Linked DNA regions of Homo sapiens. The protein of the gene in region 7 interacts with the protein of the main gene of each other region in a biochemical or structural test. Each region holds a gene or a part of one and is shown on either strand. Other genes may lie near its edges. The genes, in order: LGALS8, STRAP, CD44, RCC2, IGF2BP3, FLOT1 and ANXA1.

The links.
Region 1: the proteins of ANXA1 (region 7) and LGALS8 interact in a test that uses a peptide from one of them, tested with the Homo sapiens proteins (one large-scale study listed by BioGRID).
Region 2: the proteins of ANXA1 (region 7) and STRAP interact in a test that uses a peptide from one of them, tested with the Homo sapiens proteins (one large-scale study listed by BioGRID).
Region 3: the proteins of ANXA1 (region 7) and CD44 interact in a test that uses a peptide from one of them, tested with the Homo sapiens proteins (one large-scale study listed by BioGRID).
Region 4: the proteins of ANXA1 (region 7) and RCC2 interact in a test that uses a peptide from one of them, tested with the Homo sapiens proteins (one large-scale study listed by BioGRID).
Region 5: the proteins of ANXA1 (region 7) and IGF2BP3 interact in a test that uses a peptide from one of them, tested with the Homo sapiens proteins (one large-scale study listed by BioGRID).
Region 6: the proteins of ANXA1 (region 7) and FLOT1 interact in a test that uses a peptide from one of them, tested with the Homo sapiens proteins (one large-scale study listed by BioGRID).

Annotation. Positions count from the first base shown.
Region 1 is NC_000001.11:236,547,486-236,551,390, forward strand, and holds part of LGALS8 (galectin-8), read left to right. Parts: exon of another isoform or gene 1-476; intron 477-526; coding exon 527-676; 3' UTR 677-3,416; coding exon of another isoform or gene 3,417-3,505; 3' UTR 3,506-3,905. Other genes in the region: HEATR1 (HEAT repeat-containing protein 1), read right to left, coding at 3,417-3,505.
Region 2 is NC_000012.12:15,892,083-15,896,737, forward strand, and holds part of STRAP (serine-threonine kinase receptor-associated protein), read left to right. Parts: intron 1-1,964; coding exon 1,965-2,061; intron 2,062-3,276; coding exon 3,277-3,414; intron 3,415-4,655. UniProt on the Homo sapiens protein: The SMN complex catalyzes the assembly of small nuclear ribonucleoproteins (snRNPs), the building blocks of the spliceosome, and thereby plays an important role in the splicing of cellular pre-mRNAs.
Region 3 is NC_000011.10:35,145,301-35,149,955, reverse strand, and holds part of CD44 (CD44 antigen isoform 1 precursor), read right to left. Parts: intron 1-4,655. UniProt on the Homo sapiens protein: Cell-surface receptor that plays a role in cell-cell interactions, cell adhesion and migration, helping them to sense and respond to changes in the tissue microenvironment.
Region 4 is NC_000001.11:17,429,297-17,433,951, forward strand, and holds part of RCC2 (protein RCC2), read right to left. Parts: intron 1-4,655. UniProt on the Homo sapiens protein: Multifunctional protein that may affect its functions by regulating the activity of small GTPases, such as RAC1 and RALA. Required for normal progress through the cell cycle, both during interphase and during mitosis.
Region 5 is NC_000007.14:23,341,067-23,345,721, forward strand, and holds part of IGF2BP3 (insulin-like growth factor 2 mRNA-binding protein 3), read right to left. Parts: intron 2,788-4,655; coding exon 2,652-2,787; intron 1,124-2,651; coding exon 998-1,123; intron 1-997. UniProt on the Homo sapiens protein: RNA-binding factor that may recruit target transcripts to cytoplasmic protein-RNA complexes (mRNPs). This transcript 'caging' into mRNPs allows mRNA transport and transient storage.
Region 6 is NC_000006.12:30,729,482-30,733,375, forward strand, and holds part of FLOT1 (flotillin-1), read right to left. Parts: intron 1,620-3,894; coding exon 1,438-1,619; intron 1,247-1,437; coding exon 1,201-1,246; intron 1,085-1,200; coding exon 947-1,084; intron 706-946; coding exon 541-705; intron 1-540. UniProt on the Homo sapiens protein: May act as a scaffolding protein within caveolar membranes, functionally participating in formation of caveolae or caveolae-like vesicles.
Region 7 is NC_000009.12:73,161,373-73,166,027, reverse strand, and holds part of ANXA1 (annexin A1), read right to left. Parts: intron 3,247-4,655; coding exon 3,167-3,246; intron 2,553-3,166; coding exon 2,496-2,552; intron 913-2,495; coding exon 819-912; intron 1-818. UniProt on the Homo sapiens protein: Plays important roles in the innate immune response as effector of glucocorticoid-mediated responses and regulator of the inflammatory process. Has anti-inflammatory activity.

The DNA.
Region 1 (3,905 bases), on a different chromosome or scaffold from region 7:
AGTGCCTTAAGCTGCTGAAATTTCATATTAATTGTCTGGTTTGTTCATGGTCCTAGAGTTTGAGGCAGAAAAGTCAGTCAGGATCCAAGTCCCTTGGTTCCAGGCTACAGCTGGAAACAGCATCTCGGTGAACTAAAGCAACCATATTAGGAGTGAGTTTTCCTGCTTTAGGAGAGTCCCCAGCATCGGCGAGGAGGGGCAGCACTCTGGCTTTCCAGGAGCAAGGGGCAGGATGCGGCCGAGGGAGAGGGGCTGTGTTGAGGAAAGGAGGGCCGCAGGCCCTGGGGATGGTGTGAGGCTCCAAACATGTCCGAGTCACTTCCCTGGGTGGGATGAGGCAGACAGTGCCACCACCAGGGACACTTTAGTTAGATTAGGGTCTTGGAAGTCAGAAGGAAGTCAGCAGCAGCAGGCTGGAACTTTTCTATGTATAATCAAATGGTTTACTCTGACACCGTTAGCATGTAACAAACACAAAATTTTAAACTAAGGGGAACCACTAATGGCATGTATCCTTTCCTTTCAGATGATAATTTATTGTGATGTTAGAGAATTCAAGGTTGCAGTAAATGGCGTACACAGCCTGGAGTACAAACACAGATTTAAAGAGCTCAGCAGTATTGACACGCTGGAAATTAATGGAGACATCCACTTACTGGAAGTAAGGAGCTGGTAGCCTACCTACACAGCTGCTACAAAAACCAAAATACAGAATGGCTTCTGTGATACTGGCCTTGCTGAAACGCATCTCACTGTCATTCTATTGTTTATATTGTTAAAATGAGCTTGTGCACCATTAGGTCCTGCTGGGTGTTCTCAGTCCTTGCCATGAAGTATGGTGGTGTCTAGCACTGAATGGGGAAACTGGGGGCAGCAACACTTATAGCCAGTTAAAGCCACTCTGCCCTCTCTCCTACTTTGGCTGACTCTTCAAGAATGCCATTCAACAAGTATTTATGGAGTACCTACTATAATACAGTAGCTAACATGTATTGAGCACAGATTTTTTTTGGTAAAACTGTGAAGAGCTAGGATATATACTTGGTGAAACAAACCAGTATGTTCCCTGTTCTCTTGAGCTTCGACTCTTCTGTGCGCTACTGCTGCGCACTGCTTTTTCTACAGGCATTACATCAACTCCTAAGGGGTCCTCTGGGATTAGTTATGCAGATATTAAATCACCCGAAGACACTAACTTACAGAAGACACAACTCCTTCCCCAGTGATCACTGTCATAACCAGTGCTCTACCGTATCCCATCACTGAGGACTGATGTTGACTGACATCATTTTCTTTATCGTAATAAACATGTGGCTCTATTAGCTGCAAGCTTTACCAAGTAATTGGCATGACATCTGAGCACAGAAATTAAGGCAAAAAACCAAAGCAAAACAAATACATGGTGCTGAAATTAACTTGATGCCAAGCCCAAGGCAGCTGATTTCTGTGTATTTGAACTTAGGGCAAATCAGAGTCTACACAGACGCCTACAGAAAGTTTCAGGAAGAGGCAAGATGCATTCAATTTGAAAGATATTTATGGGCAACAAAGTAAGGTCAGGATTAGACTTCAGGCATTCATAAGGCAGGCACTATCAGAAAGTGTACGCCAACTAAGGGACCCACAAAGCAGGCAGAGGTAATGCAGAAATCTGTTTTGTTCCCATGAAATCACCAATCAAGGCCTCCGTTCTTCTAAAGATTAGTCCATCATCATTAGCAACTGAGATCAAAGCACTCTTCCACTTTACGTGATTAAAATCAAACCTGTATCAGCAAGTTAAATGGTTCCATTTCTGTGATTTTTCTATTATTTGAGGGGAGTTGGCAGAAGTTCCATGTATATGGGATCTTTACAGGTCAGATCTTGTTACAGGAAATTTCAAAGGTTTGGGAGTGGGGAGGGAAAAAAGCTCAGTCAGTGAGGATCATTTTATCACATTAGACTGGGGCAGAACTCTGCCAGGATTTAGGAATATTTTCAGAACAGATTTTAGATATTATTTCTATCCATATATTGAAAAGAATACCATTGTCAATCTTATTTTTTTAAAAGTACTCAGTGTAGAAATCGCTAGCCCTTAATTCTTTTCCAGCTTTTCATATTAATGTATGCAGAGTCTCACCAAGCTCAAAGACACTGGTTGGGGGTGGAGGGTGCCACAGGGAAAGCTGTAGAAGGCAAGAAGACTCGAGAATCCCCCAGAGTTATTTTTCTCCATAAAGACCATCAGAGTGCTTAACTGAGCTGTTGGAGACTGTGAGGCATTTAGGAAAAAAATAGCCCACTCACATCATTCCTTGTAAGTCTTAAGTTCATTTTCATTTTACGTGGAGGAAAAAAATTTAAAAAGCTATTAGTATTTATTAATGAATTTTACTGAGACATTTCTTAGAAATATGCACTTCTATACTAGCAAGCTCTGTCTCTAAAATGCAAGTTGGCCTTTTGCTTGCCACATTTCTGCATTAAACTTCTATATTAGCTTCAAAGGCTTTTAAACTCAATGCGAACATTCTACGGGATGTTCTTAGATGCCTTTAAAAAGGGGGCAGATCTAATTTTATTTGAACCCTCACTTTCCAACTTCACCATGACCCAGTACTAGAGATTAGGGCACTTCAAAGCATTGAAAAAAATCTACTGATACTTACTTTCTTAGACAAGTAGTTCTTAGTTAACCACCAATGGAACTGGGTTCATTCTGAATCCTGGAGGAGCTTCCTCGTGCCACCCAGTGTTTCTGGGCCCTCTGTGTGAGCAGCCAGGTGTGAGCTGTTTTAGAAGCAGCGTGTTGCCTTCATCTCTCCCGTTTCCCAAAAGAACAAAGGATAAAGGTGACAGTCACACTCCTGGGTTAAAAAAAGCATTCCAGAACCACTTCTCTTTATGGGCACAACAAAGAAACGAAGGCTGAAGTTCGCCTACCCAAAATGAAAAGTAGGCTTTACAGTCAAAAGTACTTCTGTTGATTGCTAAATAACTTCATTTTCTTGAAATAGAGCAACTTTGAGTGAAATCTGCAACATGGATACCATGTATGTAAGATACTGCTGTACAGAAGAGTTAAGGCTTACAGTGCAAATGAGGCGTCAGCTTTGGGTGCTAAAATTAACAAGTCTAATATTATTACCATCAATCAGGAAGAGAATAATAAATGTTTAAACAAACACAGCAGTCTGTATAAAAATACCGTGTATCATTTACTCTTTCTGCAGCTCTATACGATAGGCAGGAGAGGCTTATGTGGCAGCACAAGCCAGGTGGGGATTTTGTAAAGAAGTGATAAAACATTTGTAAGTAATCCAAGTAGGTGTATTAAGGCACCAAAAGTAACATGGCACCCAACACCCAAAAATAAAAATATGAAATATGAGTGTGAACTCTGAGTAGAGTATGAAACACCACAGAAAGTCTTAGAAATAGCTCTGGAGTGGCTCTCCCAGGACAGTTTCCAGTTGCTGAATAGTCTTTTGGCACTGATGTTCTACTTCTTCACATTCATCTAAAAAAAAAAAAAAAAAATCAAAATTAAAATCTGAGTCAGTCCGCCTGCCTCGGTTCTCATTAGTTTAATTCTTAATGCCTTGCACTTTCCGGCAATCATTCAATCAAAAGAGTGAAATGAAGCACATTAACAAAGCAGGAGGCGCCACGGACCGCCTCCCTCCACACCGCTCCTTCCGCCTTCATTCCTTGCCCACAGGCTTGCACTGGAAGCTGAATAAGAATCCCCAAAACTCAAACTTCCTAGGGATGCCACCCCTTTAGTAGCTCACACCTCCCCCCTCCAAGAGCTAAGAAACAAAGGAGAATGTACTTTTGTAGCTTAGATAAGCAATGAATCAGTAAAGGACTGATCTACTTGCTCCACCACCCCTCCCTTAATAATAACATTTACTGTT
Region 2 (4,655 bases), on a different chromosome or scaffold from region 7:
TAAGAAAATAATTCTGTTGTATTAATGTGAATATTCATGAGATTAAAATGCTATTGAATACCATTTTAATATATTCCCTTTTTTATGGAATAATTGCCTGTCTACCTTTTGTCCATTTATCTGTTGTGTTATTCATGTTTTTCTTACTGGTTTTTAAAGGTTCTTTATTGAATTCTAATTTATCATTTGCTTTTAAATTTTGTTAAGGTGGTTTTATGGTATATATGTTTTTAACATTTTGGTGGTGAAATTCTTTATGCATTCTCTCATTTTACAGAAGTTATAGGTGTCTTCCCCAGTCTACATGTTTATTTTATAATATTTTAATAATTTCCCTCACCATATATATACTTAGCTACCAAAACATGACAAACATAATTTTGTTTTATTATATATTTGGTATCTTTCAGATTTTATTATGTGGACATTTATGTAGTCATAAATCTATAAAATTTTAAAGAGTAATAAGAGAGTCAGAACCACATTGGAAATTAAGCGGTTATTCTCTTGAGATACCTTCCATTTCTGAGAACTTTTTAAAATATTTTACATTTTAATGTTACAGTAATTTGTTATGAAAACATTTTTAAGGTGAGGAAACAAAGCGCATTTGCAGATTTTTTTATTCTCCATTGCATGTAGAAGTTTTTTTCTCCTTTCTTTTTTGATAAATCTATGCCAAAACATAGCAAAGGACTCTGACCTCACTTCTTCTATGAACCCATTCAACAAAGCAAGGTAGTTCAGGGATTGGGTCAAAGCAAGGTAGTTCAGGGATTGGGTTGACATTTTTCATGCTCTTTACCTTTCCCAAAGCTGTTTTATGAAAGTTGCTCTTTCGCTGTGCTGGCAGCAGAAAATAAAATGAGGTTTTACTGTGTATCGGGTATCTGTTAAGCCCTATTCGCATTTGTAACCATTGTTATCTCATTTTACAGATGAGGAAATAAAGTTAAAAAGTTAAGTAACATGCCCAAAGGTGAAAATAGTGTTGAATGGCATTGCCTCCAGTGTCTGCTTTTGCCCCTAGAGACAGCAGTGAGGGTTTTTTGAAGTTCTTCGAAAGGATAATCTCCTACAGATTTAAGCTCCCTTCCTTTTTTTTTATGTTTTCCTCACAGTGTAGAAACATTCTTGGGAATTGCTGTCCCACTTTCTATTTCCCTTTTTTCCTTCCAACCCTTATTTCTCATTATTTACTATCAATAGCTGCTTGGATAAACGTCCCAGAGTTAGCCATAGTACTGCAATCAGATTCAACTGTTTTGTTCCTGAGTCCGTGTTCTTATTAAATTATGCCACGTTAATTATTTTATTAATAATATAATAAATACTTTTTATTATATATAAAATACTTTTTATTTATTATACATATAATAAATATATACTTTTTATTATATATAAAATTCTTTTTATTATACATATAATAAATATATACTTTTTATTTATTATACAATAATGCTTTTATATTTATTATACTTATACAATTATACAATAATGCTTTTATATTATACAATAATATTTGTATTATTGTACAAATAAATATTGTATATTATACAATAATGCTTTTATATTTATTATACTTATACAATTATACAATAATGCTTTTATATTTATTATACATATAATAAATATAAAATACTTTTTATTTATTATACAATAATGCTTTTGAATATTATCAGTTGTGCAGAAATTTAGCCTAGAGGGAGTGAGTGGTGCATTCACTCAGCTACATATAGCAAGCATGGTAGTTCCTTGGGTCCCTGTCATGCAGATAAATTTATGTTCCAATATAGAAAAACTAACTGTATTCTATATAAACATCAAGTTTGAATTGGGCTGGGCTTTGAAAAGTTGCAGTCTAATTTAAAATGTGTGTTTTTAAAAATATATAATTGTTCCGATATTGTTCAGTTTAAAAAATCATATATTAACAAATGTACTTTAAATTGTTTTATCTCAAGAACCTAAGGAAATTAGTGGTCATACTTCTGGTATAAAAAAAGCTCTGTGGTGCAGTGAGGATAAACAGATTCTTTCTGCTGATGACAAAACTGTTCGGTAAGTAATTTTTCTTTAATAATTTACAATTTAAGGCCGGGCATGGTGGCTCACGCCTATAATCTCAGCACTTTGGGAGGCGAGCCGGGTGGATCATTAGAGGTCAGGAGTACTAGACCAGCCTGGCCGACATGGCGAAATACTGTCTCTATGAAAATTACAAAACTTAGCCAAGCGCGGTGGCACACACCTATAATCCCAGCTACTCGGGAGGCCGAGGCAGGAGAATCACTTGAACCTGCGAGGCAGAGGTTGCGGTGAGTCGAGATCGTGCCATTGCACTCTAGCCTGGGCGACAGAGCTAGACTGTCTCAAAAGAAAAACAAACTTAAAATTTGCAAAATATTTTACCTTAGAGCTTATATTTTAAATACATTTAATATTATGTGTGAAAAATGTTCTGAACATTAAAATTTAAGTTGCACCCAGGTCACATTTATCTGGAGCTATCTATTTACTAATACAGGTTGAGTATCCCTAACCTGAAAATCTGAAATTTGAAACGCTCTGAAATCTGAGACTTTGAGTGCCGACTTGATGCTTAAAGGAAATGCTCATTGGAGCATTTTGAATTTCCTATTTTCAGGTTAGGAATTCTCAGTTGGTAAGTGTCTAATGCAAATATTCCAAAATCCGAAAAAGTTTGAAATCCAACTTTTTTCTGGTCCCAAGTATTTTCAATTAAGGGATGCTCACCTTGTGTATACAGACAGCAAAATTCAGAAGAAAATTAAATTGCTGATACCTTATAAGCAGGTGTTTTTAACCTGGGTCTGTGGGCAGAATGGTTAAAGGGAGGGACCATGAAGCCTCTGAAATTCTATACAAAATCTTGTGTGCTGACACCTGATGTATATTTCTTTGGAAAGATGTGTAGCTATTACTAGATTCACAAAAACAGAGTGTAAGAACCACTATTTATAGCAATGCTGAAATTGACTAGATTAGAACTTGTCTTAATAATGTAGTTTTGCCAAATTGGGAAGTGTATGTAGGTATTAAAGTTGATTTTACTTACAAGCTATCATGCATAATTTGACATTGTATATAGAAACCCAGAATTTTTTTTAATCATCTGTAATTTGTGACTTGGAATGAATGTTGTTTTTCTGTAATTGTGATTGTTCTTTCGTTGGCTAATCTGCAGATGTAATTAGAATTTATAAACTTTTTTCTTACATGAGTAAACATCATATTTTTATCTTTATTTTGCAGACTTTGGGATCATGCTACTATGACAGAAGTGAAATCTCTAAATTTTAATATGTCTGTTAGTAGTATGGAATATATTCCTGAGGGAGAGATTTTGGTTATAACTTATGGACGATCTATTGCTTTTCATAGTGCAGTAAGGTATGTCCAAGAAATACTTTCATTTTCTTTTTTAGGTAACAAAAGACATTTTGGCTACTTAAAAATGGGAAGGTATTTACTTTTTTTAAAAGTAAAGAGGCCAGGAGTGGTGGCTTATGCCTATAATCGCAGTACCTTGGGAAGCTGAGGTGGGAGGATGGCTTGAGATCAGCCTGGGCAACACAGTGAGACCCCCATCTCTACAAAAAATAAAATTAGCTGGGTGTGGTGGCACACGCCTGTAGTCCAGCTGCTTGGGAGGCTGAGGTGAGTATTCTATTGCTGGAGCCTGGGAGGTTGAGGCTGCATTTTGCTGTGATCTTGACACTGCACTCCAGTCTGGATGACAAAGCAAAACCTCCTCTGAAAAAAAAAAAAAAAAAAAAGCAAAAACTACTGAAATGGTGCTGTCATTAATGTTTTTTACTATATAAAACCAGTGTGGGCTGGGCGTGGTGGCTCACGTCTGTAATCCTAGCACCTTGGGAGGCTGAGGTGGGCGGACCACTTGAGGTTAGGGGATTGAGACCAGCCTGGCCAACATGGTGAAACCCCGTCTCTAAAATAAAAATACAAAGAGAAGAAAAATTAGCTGGGTGTGGTGGTGAGTACCTGTAATCCCAGCTACTTGGGAGGCTGAGGCAGGAGAATTGCTTAATCCCAGGAGGTGGAGGTTGTTTTGAGCTGTGGTCACACCACTGCATTCCAGCCTGGGTAACAGAGTGAGACTCTGTCTCAAAAAAAACAAAAAACAAAAAAACAGTGTGATCTTGATTCTACTATTTATTTTCACCTTAAAGTTTTAGAGAAGGAATAATCTTATTTCTGTTCCTGAGTATTTGCAGACTTAATGAATTTTTTAAACAGATTTGAATTTTGCGACTTTAAATGTAGTAAATACTCTTGGAGAAAGACTGGAATATATAACATAATTGAAAAAAATGTACCCACAATATTATACCCATAGGTGCAAGAGTGATAATGGTAGTTATATTTTCTGCTAGTCCATTTTTCTATGTTATATATGTGGGTGTACAGTATTTGTGTTTTTTTTTTTAATTACTAGGACCATAATGAATACCATTTTGATTTGTTTAAAAATATTGTTAGCCATTTAAAACTTCTTTGAAAACATTTTTACTTGATACACTGTATTTGCATCATAGGTTGTACTAAATTATGGGTTAGTTTCCCTGTTTTAGCACCACGGTGAATGTTCTAGCACATCTCTGAGTGTTTCT
Region 3 (4,655 bases), on a different chromosome or scaffold from region 7:
TTCATCTGCTCACCTTCCACATGGTCTAGAGGATTCTATGAAGTACTACGGGCAAAGCACTTTGTCCCTACAACACTCTTGCCCATTGGAGTTAGAGTGTAATTGGGTCCATATGTTTATTTCTGGCATGGATTAATAATTCACTTTTGACATTTAATACAAATCAGGCATCAATTTTTTTTGACACTGCCTTATGGTGGTTTTGTGTTATTCTTTCCATTAGGTTTTATGAGGCTCAGGTGTTAGTAAGCCCACAGAGTGGTGAATTTATAGAACATGAGGCCTGGAAAGGACTTGACAGATCAACTAGAATCCAACCCTCGCATTTTACACATGGAAAAATAGAAGTAAATGGGGGTGAAATACTTTGCCTAGCAGCACATAGTGAATCAGTAATAGAGAGAAGCTAAAATATAATAATCATTTCTATTCTTGGGATACCTTCTGTGAACTAAACATTAAGCTTTAGAAATTACGTGCTAAGTATTGTTCCAGACATTTAACAAGTGCAACTGCCCAAGCTCACGCTGCTGTTAAGTGGCAAGAGGGGAATCAACTGGTGTATGGGTCCTCCCGTCTTGTTCCACTGCCTTTATACCTTCTAAATGACTCTTATCAAAGCCAGACCTCCTCATCTTCATTACACCACACCAAGCATCTGATTATATGGAGGTGATTTTTAGTCTGGGAGGTTTTCAAACCATTGACCGAAAGAAACAACTGCCCTTTTATTCCTCTAGCATGGTGACCAAAAAGCCAACAATTTTTCTCTGAGTATTGTTGAGAACATGATTTTAAGGTTTGGGGTCTTTTTATACATGAGGCCAGATTTGGAAGTAAAGGTGTAGACAAAGAGGCAGCCAGACCTATAGGAAATCCAGATCCCCGTTCTACTGGACAAAATACAATTAGCTCTAAACTTCCCCTGCCTTGTGTAACATTTCAAACCTCAAGAAAGATCTCTTTAGACTGAAGAGAGTGCAGAGAACAGAAATTTCAAGGGAGGAGGCGGGTTGAGGATCGCTACAAGTAGCAATAGAGAAAAATGAAAGAAGATTTGTATAGACCAGAAAGAAAAAAAATGAAGAAAAAGAATTAGACAGAACCTATAAAAATCACAAAAGATAAGTAACGGAGATGGCTTTGCTAGCCAAGTCTAGAAACATTATTAATTCAGTAAGCCATCCAAGTGTTTATTGAGCACCCACTATAATTGGGGAACTGTGCTGACCGCTCAGGGCTATCATGAATATGAAAATGTATAGAGGGTTTGGGCTTTTCCCTAAGGAGCTTTTATGCTCACTGGCAAAAGAAAAGAGATAACCATTACATGGCATCCTTTAAACTTTCTCTTTTTAAATGGAGATGTGTTTGTGAGGTTTTTATGAATTTTCAGGGGGAACAATAGGAGAAAGCAAGTCACTTAAGGGAGTCTACAGGAATGTACCTGACCTCTAATGATATTGTAAAGACAACTAGTCTCACTGCAGAGGATCCACTGCAAAAACAAACTCCTTGACAGGAGATTTCTTCCCCGAACTTTTATCCCCTCTTGTGGGTTACCTGAATTCCCCTCCCCCTCTTGCAGGCAGATGTGGGCCCAGTAACTCACTGGTGGCTGCGGAGCTGACGTCAGCTGGTTTCCTGCAAGATGGTGCTTAGTTAGCTCTGTTAGATTCTGGTTTTTTGACTGGATACTCAGCAGAGGCAACATCTGTGATTGGCATGTAGTAGCTACTCATTTAAAGTGTGCAAAGACTAGAGCTGGGGGCTTGGGCAGAAATGCCCTTCTAAGCCAAACGCAGGAGACCAGGTGTTGGCTGCATGGAATTGTTCATTTCTCCCTGGCACCTTTTTTTTTTTTGAGACCGAGTTTCGCTCTTGTTGCCCAGGCTGGAGTGCAATGGCGTGATCTTGGCTCACTGCAACCTCTGCCTCCCGGGTTCAAGTGATTCTCCTGCCTCAGCCTCCCAAGTAGCTGAGATTACAGGCATGCACCACCATGCCCGGCTAATTTTTTTGTATTTTTAGTAGAGACGGGGTTTCTCCATGTTGGTCAGGCTGGTCTCGAACTCCCGACCTCAGGTCATCCGCCTGCCTCGGCCTCCCAAAGTGCTGGGATTACAGGTGTGAGCCACCTTTCCCAGCCCTCTCCCTGGCATCTTAATGTGCATAATAGTGAACACTTGCAAAGGGGCTTTACTGTTATCGTGCTACTATCTTGGAAAGGAAGTGGAAAAAGATGCTGCCTAGTTCCACGATTGGTGTGTGGATCCTCCTAGAAGTCACTGCAGACCTGTTAAGTGTAAAGAGATGCACTAAAATTGAAAAAAAAAAAAGTTGGGGGAAGGGGGCTGGAATATGGGATGAGTCCTCATTCCCAGGAAAAGGCCTGCATCCCTTCCTGTGGACTGAGCCAGATGTTCCCAGGGGGCCTTGCCTCCTCCCTTCCTGGGTGGCTTTTTTCTCAGTGAGGGGTACCCAGAGGAAACTCTCTTGCTCCCTGATGGGATGGTCACATGCTGGGCCAAATAGAAGCCTGGTCATCTGGTTTAGGCTAGGGCTGGAGAGAAGGGCTATAGTATACTTCCAGCTTTTGCCAAATTCCTTGTGCCCTGGATATGTACAGCCCTACTCCTGACAGCCTCTTTTCTCAGAGTTTCTCTCCCTCCCTCATCCATTCTAGCCGGTGGAGAGAAGACCCTGGAACCAAGGGCCTGTAAGGTGAGGGCAAATATTTTGCTGCTATTTGATTGGCTCATTTCCCAGTCAAAGTTCTAGCTGATGGAGAAACACTAATCAGCCACCTTTACCTTTCATCCAGGTGACAAATAATGAAGTGATAATGAACAAACAACTCAATTCACATCCCTTTCAGCCCTATCCTATCCTAATGAACAAACAACTCAATTCACATCCCTCTCAGCCCTACCCTATCCTCAACTTTCCATCACATGGAAGAGAGTAGAGCTTCTATTCAGAGATCAGAATGAATGAGTCAACTCAGAATATGCATTGGCAGAAGTTTCCATTACAACTTCCTCCTCCTTCATTTTTGCAATTCTAACCCCTTCCTCTGACATCATGTTTAAAAGCTCAGTGGATGTTATGACCTCACCCACAACTAGATTCCCAAATGAAGTTTTTGAAAACAACTACAGTACTTCCAGGTACAATCGTCTGGATTTCTAGGGTGCCTCGATATCTTAATATACCAAGAGAAGCACTCTAACATAGTGACAAAGAGCATGAACTCTGTAGCCAGATGTGAGTTTGAATCCCAGCGCCATCACTTATCAGCTGCATGGCCTTGGGCAAGCTACTTAAATTCTCTGTGCCTCAGTTTCCTCATATGTAAAAGACAGATAATAACAGCACCACCTTCATGAAGTCAGTGTTTGGATTAAACAAGGCAGTATATAGGAAACAATTAGAATGGCGCTGGTACATGGTCAACACTCTGTAAGTGTTTGCTATTATTACTAATAGTGGTGAGGGTTCTCAGAAACATAGAACTTGTGCAAAGATGCAAACAGAAAAAGCGTAAGAGCTCTCAAAAACAAATGAACTTTCAGGCACTGCGAAGGAGACTTGCAATGCCACAACAGCAGATGCTCAAAATGACTGGTCTATGTGAATAATCTCTTCCCTCAACCCCGGAGTTTTGCAATTAACCTTTACTTTTAAAAGCTGAAGACCTGAAAGTTTCTGGGACCTGAGTTTTGCAAATCACCTCCTTGGTGACTCAGTCCCTCCCCACCCACCTGAGATCTGTCTGCCCACACTTGCACTTCGCAGGGACACTTACCTCAGGAGGACACACCCAGGCAGCCAGTGCAACTCAAACTCGGGGAGATCTGGCTCTGTGAGTTTCCATCGTTCCCCACCCCCACAAGACCCACCCCCTCATTCTGTGTTTGTCTCCCTGTCTCTCAGGTCTAGCTGGGCAGACAATCTTTGGGAAGACAAAACCTGCCCCAGTTATGGGTAATTTCTGACATCACAAGCTCTGTGGAGAGGAGACACCGTTTGCCATTGCCAAAGTGGCTCCCCGTCGGATGTCAGGATTCCCTACGGATTTGCCCCCGAAGAAGCTATGGTAGTATCTGGTCAGATGACAGCTTGATAATTGCCCAAAGAGACCGACAGAGAAGGCAAGAATCTCCCGCATCTCCCATATAGTACTTCTACTTCTCTCCTCTGCCACCACCTTCCAGAAGCAGACATGGGGGTTGGAGGAGTGTGGGCCTCTCACCCAAGGATCTCAACCTCGTATCAGTATCTCCAAAATAACTAGAACCCCAAGGTGGCTGCTGCTGGGGAGTGTTTTTGTTTTGAGGCTTAAATTTGGGGTTGGTGTCCTCATCTCACTGGCTCCCACTCCCTTCTCAGCCCAACTATCTAGTAACCCTGTCTTTAGCCAGATGTCCCCAGCGGTCACAGCAGGCAGCCACCAAAGCCGCAAACAAACAGATGGGTGAGCTCACTGTTTGGGGTAGACCAAACATGAGGCCTGTGGTGGGCAGTCAGCCAGCCAAGTCAGCCCTGTCCTGAGCAACACAGCCATCACCATGGTTCTCACTTACACATAAATGTATTTGCACCTTAGCCCATACTGACAGCATGCTTCCATATATATAGATATCATGACTTTT
Region 4 (4,655 bases), on a different chromosome or scaffold from region 7:
CAGTTAGCCCTTATGTCACCTGTGACCTCCACACGAACAGAGTCTCCCCACACTCCCCTCCCTCATCGGCAAGTGGCAATGCGGGCAACCCCAAACCTGCCCACAGCCGCTCACTTGCTAAGCCCAGGCTCATTTTTATCCTTTGACTTCCCTTTAAAATAGCTTTTGCAAAACACTAAAAAAAAAACCCAAATACATGCCTCCTTCGCAAACTGATGTACAGAGGTATTTGCAGGAAGCCTGCCGGACACTCAGGGGCGTTAAATCCAGCTCATCCTAGGGCCAAGTCTCTATTTCACATGGCAAGCACGGCCTGCGACCTCAAACCTTAGGAGCCTCACATCACTTCTGCTGCCCACTCTGCCGAGAGCCTTTCCATGGGGACTCAGGAAGAAAACAGTAGAGAACAAGGTTCGATTTCTCCACTGAAGGGAGACCAGGCAGAACACAGCTTTGGTGGGTATGCAGGGGTCTGAATCAGGCGGCCTTTGATGGCACCCTCATGCCGCTGTCCATGAGCCCGGGAGCCAATGGTGAGTGAAACAGGACCTCCCAGGGGCCCGGCTCTCAAGGAACAAGCTGTCACAGCAGCCAGCATACTTCAGTGTTCATCCTCAGTCTCTCAACACAAAGTCATCAGGGCCACCAACTCTCATACTGTCAACGAAAATCTACGCCATTTAAAAAGGCCATTGTTCAATTCTGGGTGGCACTCATAATATTCTCAGCACTTTGCTTCCTTAAATGTCAAAATATACTTTTTCAAGTAGGTTGTTAGTGGAAGACTCAATTCTGAACTCCTCACTCAGTCCACACTGGCAAGGGAAGCATTCACTGCTATCACTTTCCGCTCTTACACATCTTTCCTGGACGTGAAAAGGAAAGGGGTTTCCTTCAGTTTACAGAATTGTTCTTGGAAGGCTTCAGGAAAAAAGTCTGGCAAGGCGCAATGGCTCACGCCTGTAATCCCAGCACTTTGGAAGGCCGAGGCGGGCAGATTGCTTGAGCTTGGAGACCAGGCTGGGCAACATGGCAAAACCTTGTCTCTACAGAAAATAGAAAAATGAGCCTGTGGTCCCAGTTACTTGGGAGGCTGAGGTGGGAGGATTGCTTGAGCTGAGGAGCTGGAGACTGCAGTGAGCCAAGATCACACCTGCTCTCCAGCTTAGGTGACATAGCCAGGCCTTGTCTCAAAAAAAAAAAAAAGGGGGCCAGGCACAGTGGCTCACGCCTGTAATCCCAGCACTTTGGGAGGCTGAGGCGGGTGAATCACGAGGTCAGGAGTTCAAGACCAGCCTGGCCAATATGGTAAAACCCCGTCTCTACTAAAAATACAAAAAAATTAGCCAGGCGTGGTGGCATCCGCCTGTCGTCCCAGCTACTCCAGAGGCTGAGGTAGAAGAATCCCTTGAACCCGGGAGGCGGAGGTTGCAGTAAGCTGAGATTGCACCATTGCACTCCCAGTGTTGCTGCCCAGGCTGGAGTGCAGTGGCGTGATCTCGGCTTGCTGCAACCTCTGCCTCCCGGGTTCAAACGATTCTCTTGCCTCAGCCTCCCAAGTAGCTGGGATTACAGACACTCAGCTAATTTTGTGTGTTTTTAGTAGAGACAGGGTTTCACTATGTTGGCCAGGCTGGTCTCAAATTCCTGACCGCAGGTGATCCACCCACCTTGGCCTCCCAAAGTGCCGATAAAATGCCAATAAAATAACGCCGATGAAAGTTCCCAACCATGCCAATAAAAATGTATTTGTTGGCCAGGCGCGGTGGCTCACACCTGTAATCCCAGCACTTTGGGACGCTGAGGCAAGCAGATCACGAGGTCAGGAGATAGAGACCATCCTGGCTAGCACGGTGAAACCCCATCTCTACTAAAAATACAAAAAAAATTAGCCGGGCATGGTGACCGGCACCTGTAGTCCCAGCTACTCGGGAGGCTGAGGCAGGAGATTGGTGTGAACCCAGGAGGCGGAGCTTGCAGTGAGCCAAGATCGCACCACTGCACTCCAGCCTGGGCGACTGAGCAAGACTCCATCTCAAAAAAAAAAAAAAAAAAAAAAAAAAATATATATATATATATATATATGTGGGCTGGGTGTGGTGGCTCACGCCTGTCATCTCAGCACTTTGGGAGGCTGAAGCAGGCGGATCACCTGAGGTCAGGAGTTCAAGACCAACCATGGTGACAAAGCCAGCCCTGTCTCAAAAAAAAAAAAAAAAAAAAAAGAAAGAAAGAAAAAGAAAAAAGGGCAGCTCCAGGCCCAATCATTCTAACCTCTACAGTGTGATCACCCCATGGGTATGCTTTGGCAGTACGGCTCACGCATTTCTAAGATTACACATCTTCATGACGGATGATTTCCACTTCAATAGGAACCTTTACACGACCCAAACCTGATTAGGGCGTCCCCCAAGATATAGGTTCCGTCACGCTTGCCCACTCCACCACATTATGTAACAGGAAAAAGATGGTCAATCTACAGGAATGCATCCTGCAGTCCTCATGAAAAGGGGAAGTGAGGCCAGCCGCGGTAGCTCATGGCCCGTCATCCCAGCACTTTGGGAGGCCAAAGTGGGTGGATCACCTGCGGTCAGGAGTTTGAGACCAGCCTGGCCAACATGGTGAAACCCTGTCTCTACTAAAAATACAAAAAATTAGCCGGGTGTCTGTAATCCCAGCTACTTGGGAAGCTGAGGCAAGAGAATCGCTTGAACCCAGGAGGCAGAGGTTGCAGCGAGCCGAGATCACACCATTGCACTCCAGCCTGGGCAACAAGAGCGAAACTCTGTCTCAAAAAGAGAAAAAAAAAGTTGGGGGGAGGGAAGTGAAACAACACGGAAAGGGAGAACAACTTTGGTTCATTTAAATTATTTAGAAAATGACCTTAATCAGAGGGTGGCCCAGCCCCTGCAGCACCCACAACTCAGGTTACTTGAATTGGAGCCTAGCTTCCCCTGGTTATCTGCCCTTCTTTGTTTAACTGGCAGGCCTGGCTGGAATATGCTACAGGTCTATATTCAATGGCTTCTGTTGAAGTCCCTGTGGAAGGAGAGGCCTCTGGGTCCTCTGCCCAAGCCTACCAAGTTGGCATGGAGGGGGCAGTAGAGACCCAGGAAGGGTGCTAAGGCACTGGAGACCAAGCTCCCAGGCCAGAGGGCAAGCCTAGAAAAGAGCCCTGGAATGCCAGCAACTGCAGACCAGGCAGGCGGAGGTTCATGGGCACCTGTGCTCAGTATGAACCATTGAAGTCAAACCACCCTACACTGAGATGCAACCACTGCAGCAAAACTTCACAGTGCTGAGGCCACACCAGAAGCCTCAGCTCCATCAGGCCAGAGGGCATGGTTCAGGGGCAAGTTCAGACAGCCAGAGCTTAACCGCAGTGGCCTTGGCCTTGGGGAGGGAGTTTCCTGGGTGACCTGGACATTTGGTCAAGGGCTCATGAAGACTGATCCATCAAGCTAGCTAAGCATTTATAGGCAAACCCAACCACGCCAATAAAAATGTATTTGTGGGCCGGGCATGGTGGCTCACGCCTGTAGTCCCGGCTACTCGGGAGGCTGAGACAGGAGAAGGGCATGAACCCGGGAGGCGGGGCTTGCAGTGAGCCGAGATCGCGCCACTGCACTCCAGACTGGGCGAAAGAGCGAGACTCCATCTTAAAAAAAGAAAAAGAAAAAGAAAAAGAAAAAAATATATATATACACTCACACACACATATATATACACACACACACACATATACATACGTGTGTATACATATACATATATACGTGTGTATGTGTGAAAAACCCCGGTAAACTGAGTCTACTCCAGTGACGGTGGTCAGATTCCTATGAAGGACATTAACTGTTATTCAAGTTTTTACGTCATGGATCCTATTTCCTCACACATTAGATGGAGGTTAGTGTATTTCGTTATTATTTACATAATTGTTTGCTCTAAGCTGCTTTCTTTTATTTCTCTATAACTTCTTTCCTCTGCCTTATGTGGAATTAACATTTAAATAGAGTAACAGAGAACTCCCAGCACCCCTTCTCACTTAAGGGGTGCTCCTCTTCCTCAGAGACCAGAAACAGCCAATCGTGGGAGAGACTCCCGCGCTTGCGGGCTCCACCCGGGGCGGCGGGGCAGGGCGGGGGTGCCAGTGGGTGTGTGGGTGTCTGAAGCTCAGTGTGCCCTCCCAGGCGGAATCCAGCCTTCCCTGATGGGCCTACGGATTGTTTTTTTGGACGAACTCAGTGTCTGCGACCCTGCTTGTGTATAAAGGCCACGCAGCAGACAGCCTGGCAAACAGTCTGCCCAATGAGATGAGTGATTTTCATGTCATTTCACCTGGCTGCCTCCAGCAACTTGGTCACATAACCTGGGCAGAGACACACAGAAATGGACAGAAAAGGCACTGAGCTTCTTCAATCAACAAAATGGGATTTCTAGTCTAAAGCAATTTTTGAATTATGATCCAAATGCAAGGTGCGCGTTTACGGGGCCCAGAGTCAACCTTTTAACATAGGTCCATGTAGAAGACCGCTGCTCCGGGGAGGTAAGACCCCCGGGAACAATGCCGGCATCGACCAATTACCTAAGGGCCATCAACTGAAACAGACTTCCGGGTTGGCTTTCAGTTTTATTTATTTGCTCCTTTCAGATTCAAC
Region 5 (4,655 bases), on a different chromosome or scaffold from region 7:
CTTGAACTCCTGACCTCGGGTGATCCTCCCGCCTCGGCCTCCCAAAGTGCTGGGATTACAGGTGTGAGCCATGGCACTTGGCCTAAGATTTATTTCTTATATAACCTACCTCTTTACAAAATAAACATCTGCTTAATGTATGCACGCACACACACAATATAATTGTGCACAAAACTATCTTATCTCTTTGGTTTAAAAAAGTACACTCAACATGGAAAACACACAGAGTCACTCCTGACCTTTCAAAGCCATTGACTTCAGGTGACAAAGATGAAAGAAGCCTTTAAAAAATCTTTTCCTTTAGTATTTAATAATTACTGGCCAGGTAATAGCTCACGCCTATAACCCCAGCACTTTGAGAGGCCGAGGCAGGCAGACCACTGGAGGCCAGGAGTTTGAGATCAGCCTGAACAACATGGCGAAACCCTGTCTCTACTAAAAATACAAAAAAAGTAGCCGGGTGTGGTGTGGCACACACCTGTAATCCCAGTTACTCAGGAGGCTGAGGCATGAGAATCATTTGAACCCGGGAGGTGAAGGTTGCAGTGAGTCAAGATTGTGCCACTGCATTCCAGCCTGGGCGAAAGAGTGGGACTGTGTCTCCAAAAACTTTTAAATAACCACCATGGCACATGTATACCTATGTAACAAACCTGCACATTCTGCACATGTATCCGAGAACTTAGAATAAAAAAAAAAGAAAAAAGAAAAAAGAAAAAAAATTTTTTTAAATAAGAAAAACAATTACTAAGTTTCTTCCCCTGCCACCTCAAAGTCCCAAACTTTTGTTGTGATATTTGAAAACACATGTTGACAACCCCGCTATCCAAAAACTGCAAAATAATCCCATGTCTACTCCACAAAGGGCCAAATAAGAAGGCTCCATTAGCAAGAACTGGAGAGCATATGTTGGCATCTAAACAGATGATCACGCGGGGACTAGGTTTACATTAAGATTTTGCCCAATCACAAAGAAAGCCAAGGCCAGTTATCTTACCTCAAACTGCGGGTAGGGAGGAGTCATGGCTGAAGGGGGCCCTGAGGTGGGAGGTGGCATCCCTGAAGTGGGTGGGAACAGACCCAAGGCGTTCAGATTTAATCCAGGAATTAAATGTGCTTGAAGCTGCAACAGTAAAAAGGCCCCTTAATTTGACAATTAAAAGAATCAAGGGAAAGTGAGCATTTTTAAGTGACAGTATTCAAACTGATCTCTTGTCTAATAAAGAAATGATTGTATAACTCAAAGCAGATGTTCCATGGGACTCTACTTGAGTACATCGTTTACATCTGTTTATATCCCTTGGTATTTTAAAATCTGTGTGCTGGTTTGCCCCCTCCTTGGTCCACAGCTGCATTAAGATATCTCAAGGGAAGCTTTCCTTTCCCTTATGACTAGCCCACAGGACTTAGACAAAACCGTATTCTGCATGCTGTGGGCAAACTAAATATAGACAAAAAGCAATGTATCAGAGTTGAAGAGGTAATCAAGTAAGATTGGTTCATTGAAAAGCAAACCAGCTATTAAGAGATCTTTACTTGCTGGGTAAAACTTAGCAACCATGGGTCTAGAGGCCTCAAAGTTGAGCCCTCTGGAAATCAGGACCCATCCCCATGTAACTACTGCAAGTAAACATATCACTGGAATGGAAATAGGAGCCAGAAAGGGTATTTTAATTTGTTTAATTTTATAAGGGTTGAGGACGTAATGTAGACGGTGGAAGGGAGATTTGAGTGTACTTGAAAATCTTTTTAAAAGGCCTAAGGGGGTTAGATTTAATCCCAGTTGATTCCAGAACATTTGGAGCCAAGCAGTGAGAATTGAAGCAGGTTGGCAAGAAGTCACGTGGGGTGTAAAATGGCTAGCATTCTAGGCTCTTCTCACAAACGCAGTATTTGCACATTTCCCTCGTCTCAGGTTTTGTGTTTCAGATGACTGGCCCAATTGAAAAAAAATTATTTTTTAAAGTCATTTACTTTAAAATTTAAGACAGGCTTTTGAAGTATTCCATTTTCAGCACCATTTCACTGATTAAGGAATGTCAGCAATTTGCTTTAATAGCCTCAGATGCACTACACAGATTGTTTTATCAATTGAAATTCTTGTATCTCCAAGGTTTATATGGCTAACCAAGTTTTAAACCTGTAATCTTAACATTAACTTTTATATGCATTATATCTATTGTAATCCTAATAAGAATGCAAGGTAGGCAGTAGTCCCATTTTACAGATGAGTAAACTGAGCCTCAGAGAGACTGAGTAAATCATATAAGAGAAGAGAGCTGCAGCTCATAAATGGTTCAGCTGTGATTCAAATCCAGTTCATGTAACATTTCTTCTATATTAAACTCTCTCAAATTAACATTGTAAGAGAGGTACTATATTAACCTTTGTAGGTAGACACTAGCCTTACTTCAGACAGAAGGAAGCTAAGGCTCAAAGACTGAATAATTTGCTAAAGTCACAGAGACAGCAAAGCTTAATGTCAAAGCCAGTATCTTCCCTACTATCCCAGGGTACTTGCTGAGGTGCTAAAAATCAACTAGAACTACTTCTAGTGATAATGCCACAAAAGAATTCAATATTAATGCAGTTAAAAACATTGTTTTAACTATTTGTTAAAATAAAGACATGCCCTTCATAACAAAACTAACATTCATAGAAGCAATATCATTTTCATAAGACTCCCTGATTTTCTTCATGATCTCCTCCTCAGCTTTGGCACATGTCTCAACATTGCCTTTAACTGTAATAGTGCGTTCTGGATTATACAGCGTCAATTCCTGCAATCTGCAGAATGAAAAAGAAGGGAAAGAAAAAGAATGAAAATTGGAGGAAGACAGCTAATAATTCAGCCACAGACGGCAATTAAAAACAAACTGTGGAGCCTGGTAATATGTAAAAGTGGGTGGTAAAACATGATGGGAAATGAGTAAGCCCCAAAAGACGTAAATCCGAAACTGTAAAGCTGCAAGAGAGAAGAAAATATTTGCCCTCCCATTTTCTCAACTAACGATTACTGGATACATATAGTTCAATCAAGTCCATATTTTAAATAAAGCTTACTTCTCAACCGCTTAAAGTTGAACCATTTTCACAATTGAACAGTGAATTAAAAAATGACTGGAAAGATGTATAGTTTTTGAGGAAACCAAATACCCTAAGTACATAACCTTTCATAAGTATGTTCCTAGTCTGTATTAACCAATTCTAGGCATAATTGGCATTCTCGTGCAATTGCATTTTCTGGGTCACCAAGCAAGGAGAAAGCATGGAAATATTCCAAAAACACAAGCCAGAATTCCTGTGTCTAAACTTAGTTTTTACCAGTTTCTTTAGAATTTAGATTGAAGTAGGCTGGAGGAATATCAATCCATCTTGACTAAAATTTAAAATGGTTCACCGATGCCATTTAGATAACAAAAACGTTAGATAGTGGCAGAAATATTCAGAAACTCCCTGCGGGACCTAGGTCCTGCTGAACCTTCAAAAGCCACTGAATATCATACCTGAAAACACCTAAGCCTATGCTGGTCAACAGCCTTGAGAGGAAAAGCAATGGGAGACATGTGCCATGGAAAACAGAACTAAGTACATAAATTGAGAGGATATGGATTATTGGTACAAATCTCCTTCATCTTCCTGAAGTTCTCATTTTCACTACTAGTATAATGTCACAGGCTAACCTTGAGCCAGATGAATGGGAAGTTATTCCTTAACATTTTCCTCAAACTTGTTAAAAATGTAAACATTTGTATAATGAAGACTATTTCTCTTAGACTACTTTAAAAAGAAGTCTATAATTCTAATTCAGTCTCAACCTGGCCCTGCCAAGCATTTTGTATTACAGTTTTAAAAATAGCTGCTTCTAGAATAACTTTTGAGATTTTTTTCTTTTAAAACTCTCCCCTTTCTGGGGGTAAATTTAAGACAAAGTAGTATTACTTATTGAATTTACCACTTTGTGGGGTTTTTTTCCCCCTTTCTTTACAACCAAACAGAAGTTTCCTGCTTCCTTACTACCTCCTTTGAAAACTCCTTGTACACAAACACCGTGCAGTCTTTCCCCTACCACTCTTCCTCAGTTCATCAATCTTTTCCCACCTTTTTGAGTACTCTGAGTGAAACTAAGAATGGCCACCCTCAGAAAAACCTTTCCACGTAATTTCAGAGCATCCACAGATTCTAAGTGTGGTAGCCTGCCTCCAAGGTGATTCCTGTCACCCAGTTATCTGTAGTCCCACACATACATACCAAATAGGGCTGACTTGTGTAAACAACATTAGAAAAATGATAGAGTATAACTTCTGAGGCTATGTCATAAAAGACATTGCAGTTTCCATCTTGACAGCTGCCATGTCTTGAGAACACTCAAGCAGCTCTGTGGAGAAGCCCATGTGGGAGGAACTGAGGCCTTCTGCCAACAGCCAGCATCAACTTGTCAGCAGCATTGTGAGACCCCAAGCCAGAACCACCCAGCTAAGCTGCTCCTGCATTCCTAACCCACAAAAACTAGCTGAGCAATTAATGTTCACATTGTGTTAAGCTGTCAAATGTTGGGATAATGCGTTACACGACAATGGATAATAAACTGGGTTATATATTCCAACTTTGGGAATAAATGTCATAAAACATAGTTAAGACTGCTTTAGAAAACA
Region 6 (3,894 bases), on a different chromosome or scaffold from region 7:
AATTATTAACCCAATTTTAAGATGAGGAAACAGGTATAGAGAGGTTGATTACTTGTCCAAGATTACAGCTAGCAGGCATTGTAGCTAGGATTCGCAACAAAACAGTGGTTCCAGAGCCTGTTTGCTGACTTCTACCATGATCTACAGGTGAATTAACTGGGGCGCTGAGAAAAGCAGTGATATGCCCTAGAATTAATTAACTGTCAATAGGCTGCAACTAGTTCCCTATACTAGTGGGGTGACCACAAGCACAGGTTGCAGAGACAGTCGACCTGGATTTCACTCCAGCTGCACTAGCAGAATGAGTAGGAACATGCTGGATGTTGAGTTTCTGGACTTTGTAAAATCCTATATACCCTAATGGTAGTTTGATTTAAAACAACTCATTTATGTAGAAGCTTAGCACTGTGTCTGGCACACAGAAAGTGATTAATAAACATCAATGACTCCCAGGCCTGGATGCTGGTTAAATGCTAGGCATACTGTGTCACACAACACAGGAACCTAGCAATTCTCCTCAGCTCCAACCTGAGACCTCACCTGGGAGATGCTCACGCCTGTGAGTCTTTCCACACTCTCTGGCAGGCGAGTTAGAATGTCCAGTACTTCCCCAGTCACTTTGGCTGCCCCCATGGTCCCACTGCCGCTGGACACCAGTGTGATCTTATTGGCTGAAGTCAAGGGACCACTGATCTCCTCTGCCACCTGGCAGGAGAGAGACACCCACTCAGTGCCCATGATCTGACCACATTCCTCATAAAACAACTTACTCTGGGTTTTAAGGTCCTCGTTCCACTGATCATCCTTCCTCACTTTGGTCACTAATAATTCCCACCCCTAATTTAGAGTCCCCCTAGGCTGTTTCTCCCTAAGCCCCTCACTACACCCCACCCCTTAGTCCCTGGTTCTATTTCCTCCTTTCTTGGTGCCCACATGACCTCCAGACCTGGGGCAGCTTCTCTAGCAGCATGTCCAGCTGAGCAGCCTCTTGGTACAGCTGGAAGGCTTCTGCCTTCTTGGCCATCTGCTCAGCCTCGGCTCGGGCTCGGGCCCCTATGGCAAAGGCCTCAGCTTCCCCACGCATCTGAGGGTTAAGGATGCTTGTGAGATTGACGGAAATCATTAAGAACAAGAAATCCCCGATCAAGCAGCAACCCCCACCCTCTCCACAAGCCAGCATGGAACTGCCTCTTAACTCACCCGCACAGACGCGGCTTCTGCCTCCGCCTGCATAATTAGTTGGGACCTGTGGACAGAAGGGAAGTGGAGGGTGGAGCCCAGCAGCCCTTACTCCCAGGAGAAAGGCCCAGTGCTGCAGAGGCAGACGCTCCTGAAACCTGAAATCCATAGGAGTCCAGGTGGTGAAGGCTTCAGCACTCCATCTTGGGGTGCCTAGGTGGCAAGTGAGCTAGGCAGGGTCAGGGAGGGGACATTTACTTCTCTGCCTCGGCTAGGCGCTCCAGCTTGTAGCGCTCCGCTTCCGCTGGCTTCCGCACCCGGGCCTCCAGCTCCTTCTCCCGCCGGGCGATCTCCTGCTCCTGCACTGCCACCTGCTGGGCCCGCTCCACCACCTGCACCTGCACCCGCTGCTCCTCAATCTGCTGCTTAGTCTTGGCCACCTGGGTAGGAGGGTGAAGTCAGGTTCACGCTCTGAGTCAGAGGTGAAGAGCAAGTGCCCGGGAACCAGAGCTCCAGAGTGGGATATAAAAATAGGAGCCGGTGGCCGGGCGCGGTGGCTCACGCCTGTAATCCTAGCGCTTTGGGAGGCCAAGGAGGGTGGATTGCCTGAGTTCAGGAGCTCGAGACCAGCCTGGCCAACATGGTGAAACCCTGTCTCTACTAAAATACAAAAAATTAGCCAGGTGTGGTGGCGAATGCCTGTAGTCCCAGCCACCCGGGAGGCTGAGGCAGGAGAATTGCTTGAACCTGGGAGGCGAAGGTTGCAGTGAGCTGGGATCACGCCACTGCACTCCACCCTGGGCAACAGAGTAAGACTCCATCTCCAAAAAAAAAAAAAAAAAAAAAGGAGCAGGTGCATGAAGGTGGGTTCCCTCCTGTCTGCTTGGCCAGTCCAGTGGAGTCCAGTGTTTCTCTGATGAGCCCCCGTTTAATCTATTTTTCCCACGTGTGCCCCCTTCTAGAGTATAAATACCTTGAGGGCACTGAGCACATGTTGGCTTTCTGCTATCTCCAGTCTTGCTCAAATCCCCCCACTGTTGCTGCGATAACCTTAGTGCTAGCCTAGGCTACTGCAATAGCTGACTTATTTTTTGTGGGGGTGGGGACAGGTGATCTTTTTTGTCTTTTGCACATGGTGCAGATTTAACAGAAAAAAAAGTGAACCACGAGGCTTCTTCCTCATTCTCCAAACCACCTGGGTCCCTTTCCCAGAGAAACCACCAAGACCAGCTTCTTGTGTATCCTTCCAGGGATACTCTGAACATCTACAAGAATGTGTGTATTCATAGAATTCCTCTTATTTAGGCAGATTTCTTTCTTTTTTTTTGAGGCAGTTTCGCTCTATTGCCCAGGCTGGAGTGCAGTGGCACGATCAGCTCAGTGCAACCTTCACCTCCCAGGTTCAAGCTAATCTCTTGCCTCAGCCTCTCAAGTAGCTGGGACTACAGGCATGTGCTACCATGTCTGGCTAATTTTTGTATTTTTTTTAGTAGAGACGGGGTTTCACCATGTTGGCCAGGCTGGTCTCAAACTCCTGATCTCAAGTGATCCATCCGCCTCAGTTTCCCAAAGTGCTGGGATTACAGGCATGAGCCATCGCACCCAGCCTAGATTTCATCTTCTTATTCCTTGCAGTGTGAGGGAATCAGAAGGCTCTTATCAAGATGCTAGTGAGGAGAGGTGCCAGGCAAGGAACACATTTTTTTTTTCTTTTTGAGACATCATCTTACTCTGTCACCCAGGTTCAATGGCGTAATCATGGCTCACTGCAGCCTTGACCTGCCTGGGCTCAGATGATCCTCCCGCCTCCCCCTCTAGAGTAGCTGGGACTACAGGTGTGAACCAGCACACCCGGCTATTTTTTGTACTTTTTGTAGAGACAGGGTTTTCTATGTTGCCCAGGCTGATCTCAAACTCCTGGGCTCACGTGATCCACCTGCCTCGGCTTCCCAAAGTGTTGGGGTTACAGGCATGTGCCATCACACCCAGCCAGAACACATGCCTTCGTTGTCCCATTGCTCAGGCTCAGCCATGCACCATCATCATTGTAGGTCTCATCAATACATGTGATGCTTCCCCTGCCTCCTACCTTCCCCCGGGCCCATCTGTTCACTCCAGAGAGAAGCATAGCTCTGGAGACGGCACTCTGTACTGTCTTTCACCCTAAATTTTCAAACCCGTTCCAAACTGGCCTCGTTGCCCTCTACACCGGTGTGCAGGATCACCTCTCTCCTGTGTCCCTTAGGCAACCATTTGTCTGTTTCTTTTTCCTTCCTGTCTATGCCCACCTTTTGGTGAAACTCAACCTCCAGAAGCTTCCTCAGAAAGAATATAAAGACAATATTTTTTCTGAGGTCTTGCTTTCTCTGAGATTTTTATTCTACCTTTTTTTGAGATGGAATTTCGCTCTTGGCACCCAGGCTGGAGTGCAGTGACGCAGTCTTGGCTCACTGCAATCTCCATCTCCCAGGTTCAAGCAATTCTCCTGCCTCAGCCTCCCATGTATCTGGGATTATAGGTGCCTGCCACCACGCTCAGCTAATTTTTGTGTTTTTAATAGAGATGGGGTTCCACCACATTGGCCAGGCTGGTCTTGAACTCCTTATCTCAGGTGATCCACCTGCTTCGGCTTCCCAAAGTGCTGGGATTACAGGCGTTAGCCACTGCACCCGGCCTCTACCCTTCTATTTTAATACCAGTTAGGCTGAAAGCAGG
Region 7 (4,655 bases):
GGCAACTGACTCAAAGAATTTTTTAGAATAACAACTTTGGCTACACCTTTTAAAGCAATATACCCAATTAATCATAACGTGAATACTTCATCCTCTCCTAGGAATGTAACTTACCTGGCCATTTTGGTATTCCTATATATTTTGGCGAAATGTTTGCAAATGTTGACAGTTATTAGAAACGGCATGTGATTGACAACTATAGCACTTCCTACAGCAGTTCTAAGAGCCACAGCAAATGGATCTTCCCTTATATAAAGACCTGTGCACTAAATTTCTCTTACATTTAACAGTAGAAATCAGTATACTATTATAAGATGGTGAACTTTGGTAATTGTCATAACTTTTCCATCGCCTTCACTTCCAAGAGGCCCAGAGCTAAATCTTGCACTCAAAGGCCAGGACTTTTTCTGAGTTTTGTCTTGTTGTTGTTTTTCCAAAGCACCTACATATTTCTTTCTTCATTTAGCTCTGAGGGTTTTTTGTTTTTTTTTTTTTGTTTTTCTTCATTCTAATTTCATTTGTTCTGTTATGCATGTCTTTTCCCACACATATTCCAAATCTTTTAGGGGAGTAAAAGCAGTGAAAATAACAAAATTATGTTCCACATGCCCAAGTCACAAAATGTATTAAATATGATAAAGTAGCGGCTGTACAAAATTGGACAAATTGACAAATAACAATGGGTCAGGAACACTGTATCTGTTTGATACAGGAGTGATATTGAAAAAGGGTTCTGTTTTTACTTTCTCTTATTTGTCATCAAAAAAGAAAATTGCATCTTCCATAAACAGATTCCAGAAAAAGAAATTTATTGTTACCTCTGCGAAGTTGTGGATAGCTTCTGGTGGTAAGGATGGTATTGAACACGTTTACGTCTGTCCCCTTTCTCCTTTCTCCTGCTTCATACAAGGCCTGTCAAGAAACACAAAAGTAAACACTTCACTATCTGCTGAAATGATATCTGCACAATAATGTTAGACCTTGTCAAAGATTATATAGGCAATCGCTTTGTGCCCAATACAATCAGAGTAGTCAACAATAAGATTGCAAGTTCTTTAAAGATAGGGACCTTATTTTGTTTGTCAAATATCTTCCACAGTTTCTCTCAAGGTGCCTTGTAAACACTAGAGTCTGAATATATGTTTGCAGAATAAATGTTTGCTGAACTAAATTGCTTTAAGATTATGCTCTATAGTAAGACAACTCCAAGGGGATCTCTAAAGATTTTTTACTCTGTGTTGTTCAAAGTAATTATCAGCAAATGTTACTTATAAATCAATAATTCAACCGTAACCTGGACCTTGCATTTTGATGTTAGAATTTCTGTATTCAAATTCTGACTCTGCAATTTCAAAGCTGCATAATCTTAGACAAATAGATCAACCTTACTAAATGACAGATTTTTTTCTTTTATATATGAAAAATATAATCCCTGCCCTATTGTCACAAGCGGTCTTTATTAACTTTGAAATGTTGACTACCATCATTCTCTTGGGTCACACTAATCCATGTAACCTCCATAAATATATATTAAGAACCCTGATAGTCTTAAAATGGAAAGCAAATTCAGAAATGTCAAAAGCAAATAAGAATTTTTTATTATGGGCAATTATTCAAATGCTAACTCTTGTTCCTTAATATGCTTGAACAATTTCTATTAAAATGATAAAACCTTCAATGTATGTAAAAATTATTTTGCATTTTTCAAGCAAATTGATCTGATATGTATGCATTTGTTGAACAAAAAGTTCATGAGTGCCTATTATGTACATGATAATGTACTGGTATAGCAGAAGTGGATGGGGGTGCACAAAGAAATCTCTATCCTTAGTGAAGCACTGTAATGAATTCTCTAGAGAATACTGTTCCATGAGAAGGCATAATGCAAATATTAGTTGTTTGTTTGTTTTAAATGGAAATTCCAGGCTTTAAAATGATATGATTTTTCTTATGTTGCCAGTGGTTTGGCATATAAATAATCAGCAATGTCACTGAAACTAAATAAAACAATATGTTAGAAAGCATATATTATTATAATTTATCCTATACTCTTGTTATATCATTGCAGTAATATTTTGACAATATAAATTGACATCTATAAACCATTCCAAAGTTCTCTGTTAAAAATAACGTTAAATATGCTTACTCTTTCCATTGCACATAATAAAAAAATTACATTTCCCCTTCTTATACCTAGTACAACGAAAGGTCAGAGTTTTTTTTAACAAACAATTCTTGGGAATGACAAATCAAATTTGTATTGTCCTTCTTCAGTTCTCTCTGGTTTTACGAATAATGAGAGATATTGAAAACTTACAAAGACTACTTTTTTGTGTGTGGGGGCTACAGAAAGACATGCCTCATTCAGGAAATGAACATTAAGAAGCCATTGGTCTCTCAGAAGATCTTAGATTTGCTTTCACAGGGGATCATGTGGTAGCCCCACTTAAGGTAGGAAGATGAACTGCAGCAGTATTTTGTAAGCACTTCCTTACCCTGGCATCTGAATCAGCCAAGTCTTCATTCACACCAAAGTCCTCAGATCGGTCACCCTGAAAGAAATCCCATTCTATTGTAAGCTCTTCTCTAGCATGTAATTGCATGATTTACTTAATTATCTTAAACTCAGATAAATAATATTTTTTGAGAAAAAGGTATTCTATTACTCATTTCTAGAAGGAGCTCAGATACAAGATTTTACTTGCGATGGTTTTAGATGTTCTTCCCCTCCAAACCTCATGTTGAAATTTGATCCCCAGTGTTAAAGGTGGGGCCTAGAGGGAGGTATTTGGGTCCTGGGGCTGATCTCTCATGAAGAGATTAATGCCGTCACTGGGAATGAGTTCTTGCTCATGAGAACCACGAGAGCTGGTTGTTAACGAGGCTGGCACCTCCCCATTCTCTCTCTTGCTTCCTTTCTTGCCATGTGGTCTCTGCACACACCAGCTCCCTTTCCTCTTCTGTCAGGAGTGGAAGCAGCCTGAGGCTCTCACCAGACATAGATACCCAAACTTGAATTTGTTAGCCATCAGAATCCTGAGCCAAATAAACCTTTTTATCTTTAAAAATTACCTAGCCTCAGATATTCCCTTATAGCAACACAAAATGGACTAAGAAATTAGTCTTTATAAAACAAGAGGCATTTCCTAAAGTATCTGAGTTGTACCTTAGCAAGAGAAAGCAAAGCGTTCCGAAAATCTCCAGATGTGTCTGAGGTTATGTCTTTGGCCAGATCTCTCTTCAGTTCTGAGAAAAAAGAAAAATAGATTTTATAGTAAACCAGTGATGAATAATAATAAGAATATCTGACATCTCTAAGTTGGTTGAAAATTCACAGTGCCACAGTGTTCAATGACTTATGGAACATGTTGCAAAATATTATCATTTTTAAATAAGAAGAGAAAAATTAAAGCAGGTAAATTTTTGGATCATTGAATTTATTTCATATGAAGCAATGGGAGCAATTTAGATAATACTGTGATTGAAAACTCACAGTCATAAAGCTTTCGTTAAGAATAAATTGTATAGGTATACATTAGTAATTAATTCTGAAATACAACATGGCAGAATTTAAGCAATAGAATGAATAAAATAATTGTTTAAAAGAACAAAATGAGGTACTTGCTTGAATGCAAATTATTTATTTAGTTTAAAAACTATAAATGTCTTATAAGTAATGCAGTTTGATGATTTATGTGTGTGTAAACACTTCTGCTTAACTACATAAAATAATACTGTAATAGGAAAAAATAATTGAATTTATAATTGACTAGTGCTATGGTTTTCATATTGTTTGTTTGGCCCTGCCAAGTCTCATGTTGCAATTTATTCTCCACTGTTGAAGGTGGGGCCTGTTGGGAGATGTTTGGATGATGGGGGCAGATCCCTCATGAATGGCTCGGAGTGAGTTCTCATTCATAGTTTCTTTAAGAACTGGCTGTTGAAAAGAGCCTGGCACCTCCTTTTCTCTCTCTCCCTCTCTGCACACATCTGCTTCTGTCTGCTTTCTGCCATGAGTAGAAGTAGTATGAGGCCCTCATCAAAAGCAGACGCTGGTCCCATACTACTTGTACAGTATTTCCTTTCTTTTTACATTACTTGGTCTCAGATATTTCTTTATAGCAACACAAACGGACTAAAACAACTTGAAACTGGGCAATGTAATAAACTATCACTGGCCTATATCTTGGCCATATGAAAAATATATAAACACTTATTTTTATAAACTATGTTTTATCAAACAAAAATAATCATCATTATTACCACTGACACATGGATCTAACATAAACATTGGTAATTAAATAAGAATTGCAGAAAATGAGGTTTAAAAGCTTCCTTATTTTTATTCTTTTATTAAATTCCTCTGAAAATGATATGCAAAAGCTATTGTATTCTCCATGCTTGGTATGAGAATCAAGCAGAAAGATCTTCTATATGCCATATATTGCATTGGGAAAGCCAAAAAGCCAGCAGCTCAGGGAAATGAGAGTAGGAAAATGGTAAGAGACTTGCAATTACCCTCTTTTCAGTGTTGAGCACATCATTTAAATGAGATGCTTCACTGGAGAGATAAAATAAGCTAAGACTAGTCTTTTATTCTGTGAATTTAACTAGAGATAAAGTGAGTCTCTTATGTTCATAACGATAAAGTTAAG